2 separate regions of the Homo sapiens genome follow, and region 2 is linked to region 1. The links come from fine-mapping of genetic effects on gene expression. A gene starts in region 1. The other region holds a variant in brackets. All regions are shown on one strand. Distances are between the middles of the regions. Region 1 holds the start of DPY19L3-DT (DPY19L3 divergent transcript). Region 2 overlaps DPY19L3 (dpy-19 like C-mannosyltransferase 3).

Region 1 (5,382 bases):
GAAGAGGAAGAAGAAGGAAGAGGAAGAAAGAAGAAAAGAAGAAAGAAGAGAAAGAGAAGGGAGGAGGGAGGAGGAGTAGCTGCATGAAACTTAAAAGGAATGCCTGAAAGGTAGACAGAGGAAACACGCACAGTCTGTTGTCACAGAAGGCAGGAATGATGGAGAGTGTTTATACTAAGTCAAACAATTGAAAAATGAACACTGGGCTGGGCGCAGTGGAGGACACCTGTAATCCCAGCACTTTGGGAGGCCAAGGCAGGTGGATGACTTGAGATCAGAAGTTTGAGACCAGCCTGGCCAACATGGTGAAGCTCTGTCTCTACTAAACATACAAAAATTAACCGGGCGTGGTGGCCAGCACGTGATGCCAGCTACTCAGGAGGCTGAGACAGGAGAATCGTTTCAATCCGGGAGACGGAGGTTGCAGTGAGCCGAAATCACCCCACTGCACACCAGCCTGGGTGACAAAGTTAGACTCTACCTCAAAAAGTTAAAATAAATAAAATTTTTAAAATGGACATCATGTATCAGACAGGAAAAAGCCAGTAAGACGGAAGAACTCACACCCTCGGGATCCCAAGACAAGATACTTCCATGGGATGGATGTAATGAACAGTGTTAAAAGATTTCTGGTGCAGTGCTTCTCAAAGTGTGATGTACACATAAATGACCTGGGGGTCATATTAAAATGCAGATTTTGGCTACACAGGTCTTGGGTAGGACCTGAGACCTGGCTTTTCTCAGAAGACCCCAGGTGATGCCCATGCTGCACAGCCCACAGACCACATGTTGAGTAACAAGGTTCTGCTGTGGTTCCCAAACTTTTCCGAGCACAGAATTATCTGGAAAACTTCTGTACTAGTCCATACAGCTATACATACTGCTATAAAGGATACTGCTACAAAGAATGCCCAAGACTGGGTAATTTATAAAGGAAAGAAGTTTAATTGACTCACAGTTCAGCATGGCTGGGGAAGCCTCAGAAAACTTACAAACATGGCAGAAGGCAAAGGGGGAAGCAAGGCACTTTCCTCACAAGGAGGCAGGAAGAAGTGCTGAGCGAAGAGGCAAGATCCCCTTATAAAACCATCACATCTTGTGAGAACTCACTATCATGAGAACAGCATGGGGGAAGCTGCCTCCATAATTCAATTACCTCCACCTGGTCTCTCCCTTGAAAGGTGGGGATTATGGGAATTACAATTCAAGATGAGATTTGGGTGTGGACATAAAGCCTAACCATATCAACTTCTTAAAGATTAGTGGTCCCCTAGCCCTACAGATTCTAAATTGAGTAGGCGTGGGGTAGGGCCTGATAACATGCATTTCTTAACAACCTCCCAAGTGATGGTGACAGTGACGCTGCAGATCCCCAGACCACACTTTTGAGATGCACAGCACAACTATTTGTGGCCCTGGCAGAGACAACCAGGGAGACTATTTAGGCTTCTAAACCTACTGCAAACCGGAAGTCTTGCTATATACCACCACTGCAGTCACAGTCCATTACAGGAGCCCATTCCTTTTATAGTACCTCCCTGGCTCCGGGCTCATATGGCCAGAAGTGTGAGCAAGGACCTACACTCATTATCCATCACCTCCATGGTTACTTTATCAGAACCAAAGACTCATTCTTAATTGGCTTATTCTCCCCAAGACTTACTCTCAGCAGTAGGTCCTACTTAGGAAAAGTCTCAAAGCTTCATCTTGCTTAGGAATGTCTTTTCATAGTATTAAAAAAAGCAGCTACTGCTGAATTCTACTTTCTTTTTAACTAAGCGATGATATTTCACAATGGTCACATTTCCCCCAGAGTGAAACAACTTGAGAGAAAAAAAAAAACCTATAAAATAAGAGGGAAATCCTATTTAAGGGGAACTCAATTCACCTATGTATTCATGAAACAGACACATGCACATAAAGGCATCTTAACGTGAAAAATAAACATACAGTCCTTGCCCTCAAGCCAGGCGACAGAAAAGCTACCAACAACCAGGCTGAAACAAGACAAATGCCATCTGAAAAAACAGCTGACATTTGTTTCTATCAAAGCCATCCAGCAGATACCTCAACATCTTTCCACAGAACGTGTGCTCTTTACTAACAACCGACACACAAAGGAGGACGATCTCCAACAGAGGTGACTAGGAAAGGCTTCCTGGATGGCGTAATTTAGTGTTGGAGTCAGACCAATGAGCCGCCTTTTCACGGGTGGAGGTCCCAGATGGCCATCCCTTTAACAAAAATCAATTAACATGTAAATTATGTACTGACAAATACAACGTTTGATGGGCCCGCTGCAGTGGCTAAAGCCTGTAATCCCAACATTTTGAGAAGCTGAGGCAGGAGGCCTGCTTGAACTCAGGAGTTTTAGACCAGACTGGTCAACACAACGAGACCCCATCACTATAAAAATTAAAATGAATCTCAGCTACTCAGGAGGCTGAGGAAGCAGGGTCACTTGGGCACAGGGGACTAAGGTTGCAGTGAGCTACGATCACACCACTGCACTCCAGCCTGGACGACAAAGCAAGACCCCCATCTCTACGAAAAATTTAAAAATTAGCTGGGCATAGTAGTGCGAGCCTGTGGTCCCAGCTACTCCGGAGGCTGAGGCGGGAGGATCGCTTGCGCCCAGGAGGCCGAGGTTGCAGTGAGCCGTGATAGCACCACTGCACTCCAGCCTGGGCGACAGACTGAGAGCCTCACCTGTAAAAAATAATTTTAAAAAAGGTTCCACCTAGTGTTTTCCGTGGTGTGACTAAGAAAAGTATCTAGAAATAAAGCACAGTCAGTACCTGCTCTCAAAAAACGGCTGCCAATCTAGTTTGGAGACAGAAAAATATACCCGACTGAGAACACAGAGGAGCCTGTTTTCGGAAGAGGGGCGTCTTTGGAGACGCAAAATCCTCTCCGCGGGACGCTGACGGGCAGTCGGTAAAGGACTTCCAAGCACTGGTCAGTGACAATCGGGCGCTGGGGCTTTGCCAAGGCCCGGAGGCGGCGCGCCAAACCGGGCAATGCGGGAAGCGGGGCAGGCCCGAGTGGCCCTACTGCTGCCGTCCCTACTGATCCCTGCGCATCCGCCACAGAGCAGGGAACGGCAGAAAGGAGGAAGGAGGGGGAGTTCCGTAAATCAGGCCCTCAGGGGCTCCCAGGCCCGCACCCCTCTCAAGCCCCGGGGACCACCGCGGAGCCGCTGCTCCGGGCCGTGCGGCTCGAGGCGAACCTGCCTCAGAGCCGCCGGGCCCTCCTATCCCGAGCCGTATCTCTAGCTCCGGCCTGAGGTGGCCGGCGACTGCGTGCGCAAACACAAGATCCGCACCCCACTCCCCGCCACTGCAGCTCCGCGGCCGCGCTCAGAGTCTCCGGAACAGACCGGACTCAATGCGGACCAGGCAAGCGGAAGTGTGCCGCTTCCTTCCGGCCAGCGCAGCACGAGACGAGGCGGGGAACCGCGGGAGGAGGCGGGGCCTAGTGTTGACGAACAGCTCCCGGGGCCTATGGGCGCGGGGGCAGCCGCCCGGCCTCTCCGGCGCGCCCCCTCCCCGGGGCTGTTGACGCCCCCCAGCCCCTCATTTCCACAAAGCTCCGCGGCGGTTCTGCCCTCCTTGTACCCGCGGCGCGCTGCGGCCCGTGGCGCGGCCCCGTTCCCGCCTAGCCCCGTCGGCCTCCTTCCCCTCCCGGAGCCGCGCGTGAGGACGGCTGAGGCCGCAGGTCTGTGGCGGCGCGCCGGGACGCGCGGGCGAGGGTCTACCGAGAGGGCGGGCGGGCGCCGGCGGAACCCTCGGCTACAGCCCCGAGCCCCTGGGGCCGCCCCTCCCCGCCGCGTGGCGCAGTCGGGGGGCGCGGCCGCGGCGTCGGGGCGTCGGGAGGGGCGGAGCGCGGGAGTGTCTGCCGGGACGCGGGCCGGGCTGGGCTCCGGAAGGACCAAGTTTGCGGAGCGGCTTCTGCTCGTCGGCCGTGCGGCGAGGCAGGGCCTGGGCTGCGACCCCGGCGGCCGCTCGCGGTCTTGGGAGAGCTGGGGCGCGTGCCTGAACTTCCCGGCTGCCCCTGTCCTTGGAGACCTACCTGATGGGGACGCCAGGTGTGCAGGGGCGTGGCGCGTAGGTAAGCGGACCCGGTGCCTGCCTCGTCCAGGGGATGCTCACTAGAGCGCTAGGCTTTTTTATTTTTATTTTTTAGAGACAGGGGTCTCGCTGTCTCGCCCAGGCTGGAGTGCAGTGGCGTTATCACGGCTCACTGCAACCTCGAACTCTTGGGCTCAAGCGATTCTCCCACCTCAGCCTCTGGAGTAGCTGGGACCACAGGCATGCACCACCGAGCCTGGCTATTTTATTGTATAGATAGGGTCTCGCTCTGTTCCCCAGGCTGGTCTCAAACTCATGGTCTGAAGTCATCCTCCTGCCTCAACCTCCCAAAGCGCTGGGATTACATGAGCCGCCTCGCCCGGCTAGCGCTAGTCGTCCTTATTAATAAAGAATCGCTTCTGGTCCCTTTTCAGTTGTTTACAATGGCATTCCTTTTGATCTGATGGAGGAACTTTTTTTCTTAGTTCATGGGACTGTTGCAGTGCCTGACACATAATTGGTACTTAAATATGTGTTGGTTTTCTGCCTTAACATATTAGAATATATGAATTGTTTAAAAAAGTCCTCTCACACTTAGGGAGGACTCTAGGATGAGGTCACATGGGGGATAAGCCCATCTGTGGCTGTAGGACTTTGTTAAACACTCCTCTTCTCCCTCTCTGTTCCAGATTCTCCATTTCCAGTGCTTGAAAGCACAGTACTTAAATCTGGCTTCCTGCTTTTTTTTTTTTTTTTGGTATGAATGAATACATGAATTGTATAATGTTAGTTGGTTTGTTCTGTAGAGCAAGTTACCCTTAGGAATTAATAAACTGTGGAAACAATCATGTCAGGCTACTAGTCACATTTAAGAAATAATTAGTAAGAGGCTGTTCATTATTCAGAGGAGTGAAGCAAGATGTTCTGGAGGACTGGAACCCGCTTACTCACTGCCACCACTCCCCCGCCTCCCACTTGCTGCTGCCAAACCAGGCTCCTGCTCCCCCCCACCCATTACTCCCACCGACGCTCCCTGGGATAGCAGCTGCCCTGATTGGCACACCCCCGCAGTCATCACCACTGAGGCGTATTCCTGAAGCTGCCAGTGTGAATTGTTTTATAGAACACTGGTGTTAAAATTCAGGTACCTGAGACAAAACAATATTTTAATTCTTCAAAATCCGGTTGTCAACACATTTACTATGGAGTATCTCCCACGTGGCCACTTCTGTGGGAGGTACTGAAGACCTACTACCGCCTATGGAAGTAGAAAATAATATACAACTGTGTAGTTACGTGACGCATTGCGTGG
Region 2 (5,382 bases), 57 kb after region 1:
TGTATTGCTCTTGAAATGTAAGAGTTAATTAATTATTGCTCATTTGTTTTCTTGCATCTTGCTTCAGGGCTCATAATGTTGGAGTGGACCATAATTATTAGTATCTACTAAAAGTTTTGAGTAATAACTGCCAATTTTAAAAAACTAAGTATATCTACCAATCTACTGAAAGAAAAAAATCAGGAGTATGAAGGCTTTTTAAAAACTTGTAAGAATATCTACCCATCAAGCTGCTGGGGGGGTTTGCATTGACTCTTCGTGTTAAACTGAAAGAAAATTAAGTGTAAGAAGTTGAAGCTGCTGTCATTTGTGAAAACTTAATGAAGCTCACGAGGAAGCCCTTTTTCTGTAGTTACCTTGCCAATTAATGTGCTGGTGAACTGTGATTCACAGCCACGAGAGAGCTGTCATTAAAATGAGTCCAGAGCAGTTGAGAGGTTTTATGATCATTAAGAATGAAACAACATTGAACCATGAAAATATTTCATTGAACATAAACTATTTTACTATCCTTGAGAAGTGTTCTTTTTCATACCTAACCCAAGATAAAATTTAGCCCTGTGAAAATAGATGGAAATTATTCTGGACAGTGTGATTTAATATCATTCCAGACATAGCAAGTGTCAACAGGACTCTGGACTGCATACAAAGCAGGAAGTTCAGTGGGCCTGCAGTATCTTCCTGAAAATGTCTGCCATGCTCTGTGTGAATCTATGAGCCATCTCTGGAGGCTGATTGGGTATATGATCATAGATAAAAGATTTTAGAGCATCTTCATCTGCCAGATAGGGATATTAGGACTTTATTAGAGGAAAAGCACTACATGAAAGTAATTAAAGAATCATAGTCCAGTCATGTCACTTAACAAGGGGGATATGTTCTGAGAAATGCATATTAGGCGATTTTATCATTGTGCGAATATCATACAGTATACTTACACAAACATAGATAGTATGGCCTACTACACACCTAGGTTATGTGGTATAACCTACTGCATCTAGGCTGCAAACCTGGACAGCAAGTTACTATGTTTAATACTGTAGGCAGTTGTAACACAATGGTAAGTATTTGTGTAACTAAATATATCTAAACATAGAATAGGTACAGTAAAAATATAAAGGCCAGGTATGGTGGGCCTGTAATCCCAGTGCTTTGGGAGGTTGAGAAGGATTGCTTAAGGCTAGGAGTTCTAGACCAGCCTGGGCAACATAGCAAGACCGCATCTCTACGGAAAAAAAAAAGAAAAAGAAAAATTAGCCAGGCACGATGGTGCAAACCTGTAGTGCTAACAAGTCGGGAGGCTAAGGCGGGAGGATCACTTGAGCCCAGGCGTTTGAGGTTTCAGTGAACTATAATTGCACCATTGCACTCTACCCTGGGTAACAGAGTGAGACCCTATCTCTATTTTTAAAAAATACTGTAATAAAAGATTAAACATTGTATACCTATATAGGGCAGTTTTCATAAATGGAGCTTGCAGGACTGGAAGTTTTTCTGTGTGAGCCTGTGAGTGAATGTGAAGGCCTAGGATGTTACCATACACTATTGTAGACTTTATAAACACTGTGCACTTAGGCTACAGTAAATCTATTTAAAAAACAAAGTGATTGTGCTATGACCTTATAATGGCTATGATGTCACTAGGCAATAGGAATTTTTCAGCTCCATTATAATCTTACGAATCCACTGTGGTATGTGCGATCTGTTGTTGGCCAAAATGTTATGTGGCACGTGACTGTCTAAATGTGAATTAACTTTTAAATAAGGGCCTTTTGTCAGTGCCAAGTATTTAAAGTATTTCTACCTTTTTAGTACTAGGAAGGATGATACTATGACTTGTTTTGTTTTGTTTTGTTTTGTTTTGTTTTGTTTTGTTTTGAAATGCATCTCGCTCTTGCCTGGGCTGGAGTGCAGTGGTGCAATCTCGGCTCACTGCAACCTCTGCCTTCCGGGTTCAGGCAATTCTCCTGCCTCAGCCTCCTAAGTAGCTGGGATTACAGGCATGCACAACCACCCCTAGCTAATTTTTGTATTTTTAGTAGAAACAGGGTTTCACCATGTTGGCCAGGCTGGTGTTGAACTCCTGACCTCAAGTGATCTGCCTGCCTCAGCCTCCCAAAATGTTGGGATGACAGGCATGAGCCACTGCACCCTGCCAGATACTATGACTTTTATGTAGACATCTGCATTAGTGTGAGGGGTACATCTGAAAGGGGCATGGTGTTCCCTGCCTCAGCCTCCCAAAGTGTTGGGATGACAGGCATGAGCCACTGCACCCTGCCAGATACTATGACTTTTATGTAGACATCTGCATTAGTGTGAGGGGTACATCTGAAAGGGGCATGGTGTTCTGTGTTCATGGAATTAATCAGAGCCTTCCAGCTTGGCTGGGCTATGGGGGAGGTACTGCAGACTTCTCTTAGGTATCTAGAGAGGATAAGAGCAGATACTCCCCTTGTCTGTTTTATTTTTATTTACTTTTCACACCTTGCCCTGTTGATGGATATTCTTATTTGGAGTATCCTTTTTGTACCAATATGGAAACCAGTGTTTGGGTTGTAATATTTACTTTTAAGTAAAGATTCCAATTGTGAATTACCAATGGTGAGAACTGCCTTAGAGTATCCTTTTAATTTTCGTATGTATTTATGGTAGGAAAAAAAGGATTTCTGGGAAATAAAAAAAGTCTCTAGTTACATAGAGAAGCATCGTATGTGCCCAGTTCTATTGGGT[A/G]TGTATGAAGGGATCAGTAGACCTTCATGAAAGTTTCATCTTTAACTAGTAGCCTTTACTGTTGTTTTCTTTTCCCCTCGACAACAAATTGTGCAACATCTAAAGTCACTGATCAGTCTTAACATCACTGAAGTGGAGACAGCCAGGCAGTGTGTGCTTCCCGGTGTAATGTGATGTGGAATAGAGCCGTCCTGTTTTCTGTGGAAATATGTTTCAAGTCCCTCAGTGGATGCCTGAAACCTCGGATGGTTTCACACCCTTTCTATACTATGTTTTTTTCCTATACATATATCCCTGTGATAAAGTTTAATTTATAAATTAATCATGGTAAGAGAATAACAATAATAATAAAATACAACAATTATAGCAACATGCCAGCATCACTTCTCTTGCACTTTGGGGCCTTAGTTATGTAAGATAAGGGCTGTTTGAACACAAACAATACAGGGACATTTAAATGTATCTTACTTTATTAGTAGTTTAGTAGCTGAATGTATCTGCTTGTCTGTCTCGGGTAGGTGGGTAGACTATACAGCGTGGAAACACAGGACCAAGGGATGATGATCTGAGTCTCAGGTGGGACAGACAGGGATGGAGAGATTTCATCATGCAACACAGAATAGCATGTAATTCAAAACTATGAATGGTTTATTTCTGGAATTTTCAATTTAATATTTTCGGACAGCAGTTTCCTCAATAACAAACCACTGAAAGTGAATCCACCGATAAGAGGGGACTACTGTGCATCATAACCCCGTGAAGTGTTCTTGCCAAAAAAATGAACTTGTGTCTGATAAACCTCTAGATCTAATTACAAGTTTACAAGAAGCATGAAACGTATAACCACCACTGTGAGCCACACCTGGGAGACGGGAACAGCTTCAGGACATATGTTCTCTATTCTTCCACAAACAAATGGCCTGTTTTTTAAAAAAAGGAGATACTTTTATAGATCAAAAGATATTTAAAGATATATATTAGTGAAATGCAACATGCAGTTCTTAGATCCTGATTCAGAGAAACCTGAAAAAAGCAATTGATGCAAACAGGGAAAATAGAACATGAACTAGGTATTAGATGATGTTAAGGAATTATTGTTACTTTTATTGGGTGTAATAATTTTAATGTAGCCGTATTTGGTAAAAGTCATCTTTTGGATATCAGGAGGTATTGGTAGGTTAAAAATGTGATTTTTGAGGGGTCATAAAGGAACTGAATTCCAAGTTAATGGATGTGTGTTTTGCTTTTGCTTATTTGTAAAAATTTGAAAAATACTCATAATAACTGGTAAAACATCTTTTAAAAATCTCTTTCAATTTCAGCAATTCCAAAAAATTTGAGTTTTTTTTTTTGCATTCTCTTTTAATTTAAAGAATTGAAGCACTTTAAATTTTTACTTCAAAGCTGCTGTGAAATTTCAGTTTTTCTCATTATTAATGCATTTATATTGTTACACTTTAGCCTCATAAATTCAAAATTGATCAATGCGAATTCATTTCATCTTATGGAAATAATCAATTTCTGAATACATAAAGGCATACATTTCTTGTATCTTCTTCTTTTACAAAGATCTAACTAAAATTATGTTTCCAGCTTAAATTTTGTATGTTGCTGTTTTACTCAGTGATTCTACAAATCAACAATCCGTGGGTAAAATGGAAAAAGGCACAGTTGACCTGAAACCAGAAACTGCCTACAACTTAATACATACCATTCTGTTTGGATTCTTGGCATTGAGTACAATGAGGTATTTTTGTCTTACCTGTTTGTTTACTTTTTATTTGATCACTCTTGATGTTACTTAGCAATATAATTTGGAAAGTGACAATCATCTTCATTAATGATCATGGTTCCCATAAAATCATCCTTATATCCTATCTTCTCTCAGTATAAAATACTCAACATCAGTTTTTACAATTAATTACAAACACGCCTCTATGTTTTACTCAAAGCATAGTCTTGAAAAGGCAGTGGAGTTAAACAACGAACCCTTCGGCAAATGGCATCTGCATAGTTTTAAGTAAGATTTTGCCGTCATAGACTGTAAAGCTGCCTTTATAGGTGTCTCAGAATCCAGGTTTATATACAACTAGTACTTCTGACTTGCGCCTGTGTCTGTTCTTGCAGAATGAAGTACCTCTGGACGTCACACATGTGTGTGTTCGCATCATTCGGCCTATGTAGCCCTGAAATATGGGAGTTACTTCTGAAGTCAGTCCATCTTTATAACCCAAAGAGGGTCAGTGTCATCCCTTTTTCCATCTCCTTTTATGACTTGCAGTATTTCTTTCATACCACTTCTTTTTTTGTTTTTCAGTAGCTGTGAGATAAAATGGATACTGAAATTGAAGCTGAAAATACATAATTGATATATTAAGATTTTATAGGGAATTATTTTAAAATAATTTTATTTTAAAAAATTACTTTTTTCTCAGACTATAAGTTAGATATGTTCATTATACAGAATTTGGAAATACAAAAAAAAGCACAAAAGGGGAATTAAAATTACCAATAATCCCCTTGTCCGGAATTATAACTGTTGTTATTATAATGTATTTTCATAAAGATAATTATTTATATATGTATGACAATTTTTCAGTAGCCTATAAATGCAGTTTTGAATTGTTCTACTCCATAAATTCACTAGGT

Evidence for each region.
Region 2: its variant is fine-mapped to the expression of DPY19L3-DT in whole blood (INTERVAL, PIP 0.95).

What each region holds. Positions count from the first base shown.
Region 1 is chr19:32,402,193-32,407,574 of GRCh38, forward strand. DPY19L3-DT (DPY19L3 divergent transcript) reads right to left here and starts at 3,347. Exons shown (of 3, transcript NR_046201.1): 1 at 2,799-3,347. It overlaps DPY19L3 (dpy-19 like C-mannosyltransferase 3), which reads left to right and starts at 3,578. Exons shown (of 19, transcript NM_001172774.2): 1 at 3,578-3,717. RefSeq lists silencers at 3,130-3,179, 3,210-3,959.
Region 2 is chr19:32,459,009-32,464,390 of GRCh38, forward strand. It overlaps DPY19L3 (dpy-19 like C-mannosyltransferase 3), which reads left to right. Exons shown (of 19, transcript NM_001172774.2): 13 at 4,358-4,480; 14 at 4,861-4,972. Among named protein-coding and RNA genes, the nearest start is that of DPY19L3, 56 kb to the left of the region's middle. RefSeq lists an enhancer at 14-63. The variant A/G (reference allele first, on the strand shown) is at 2,734.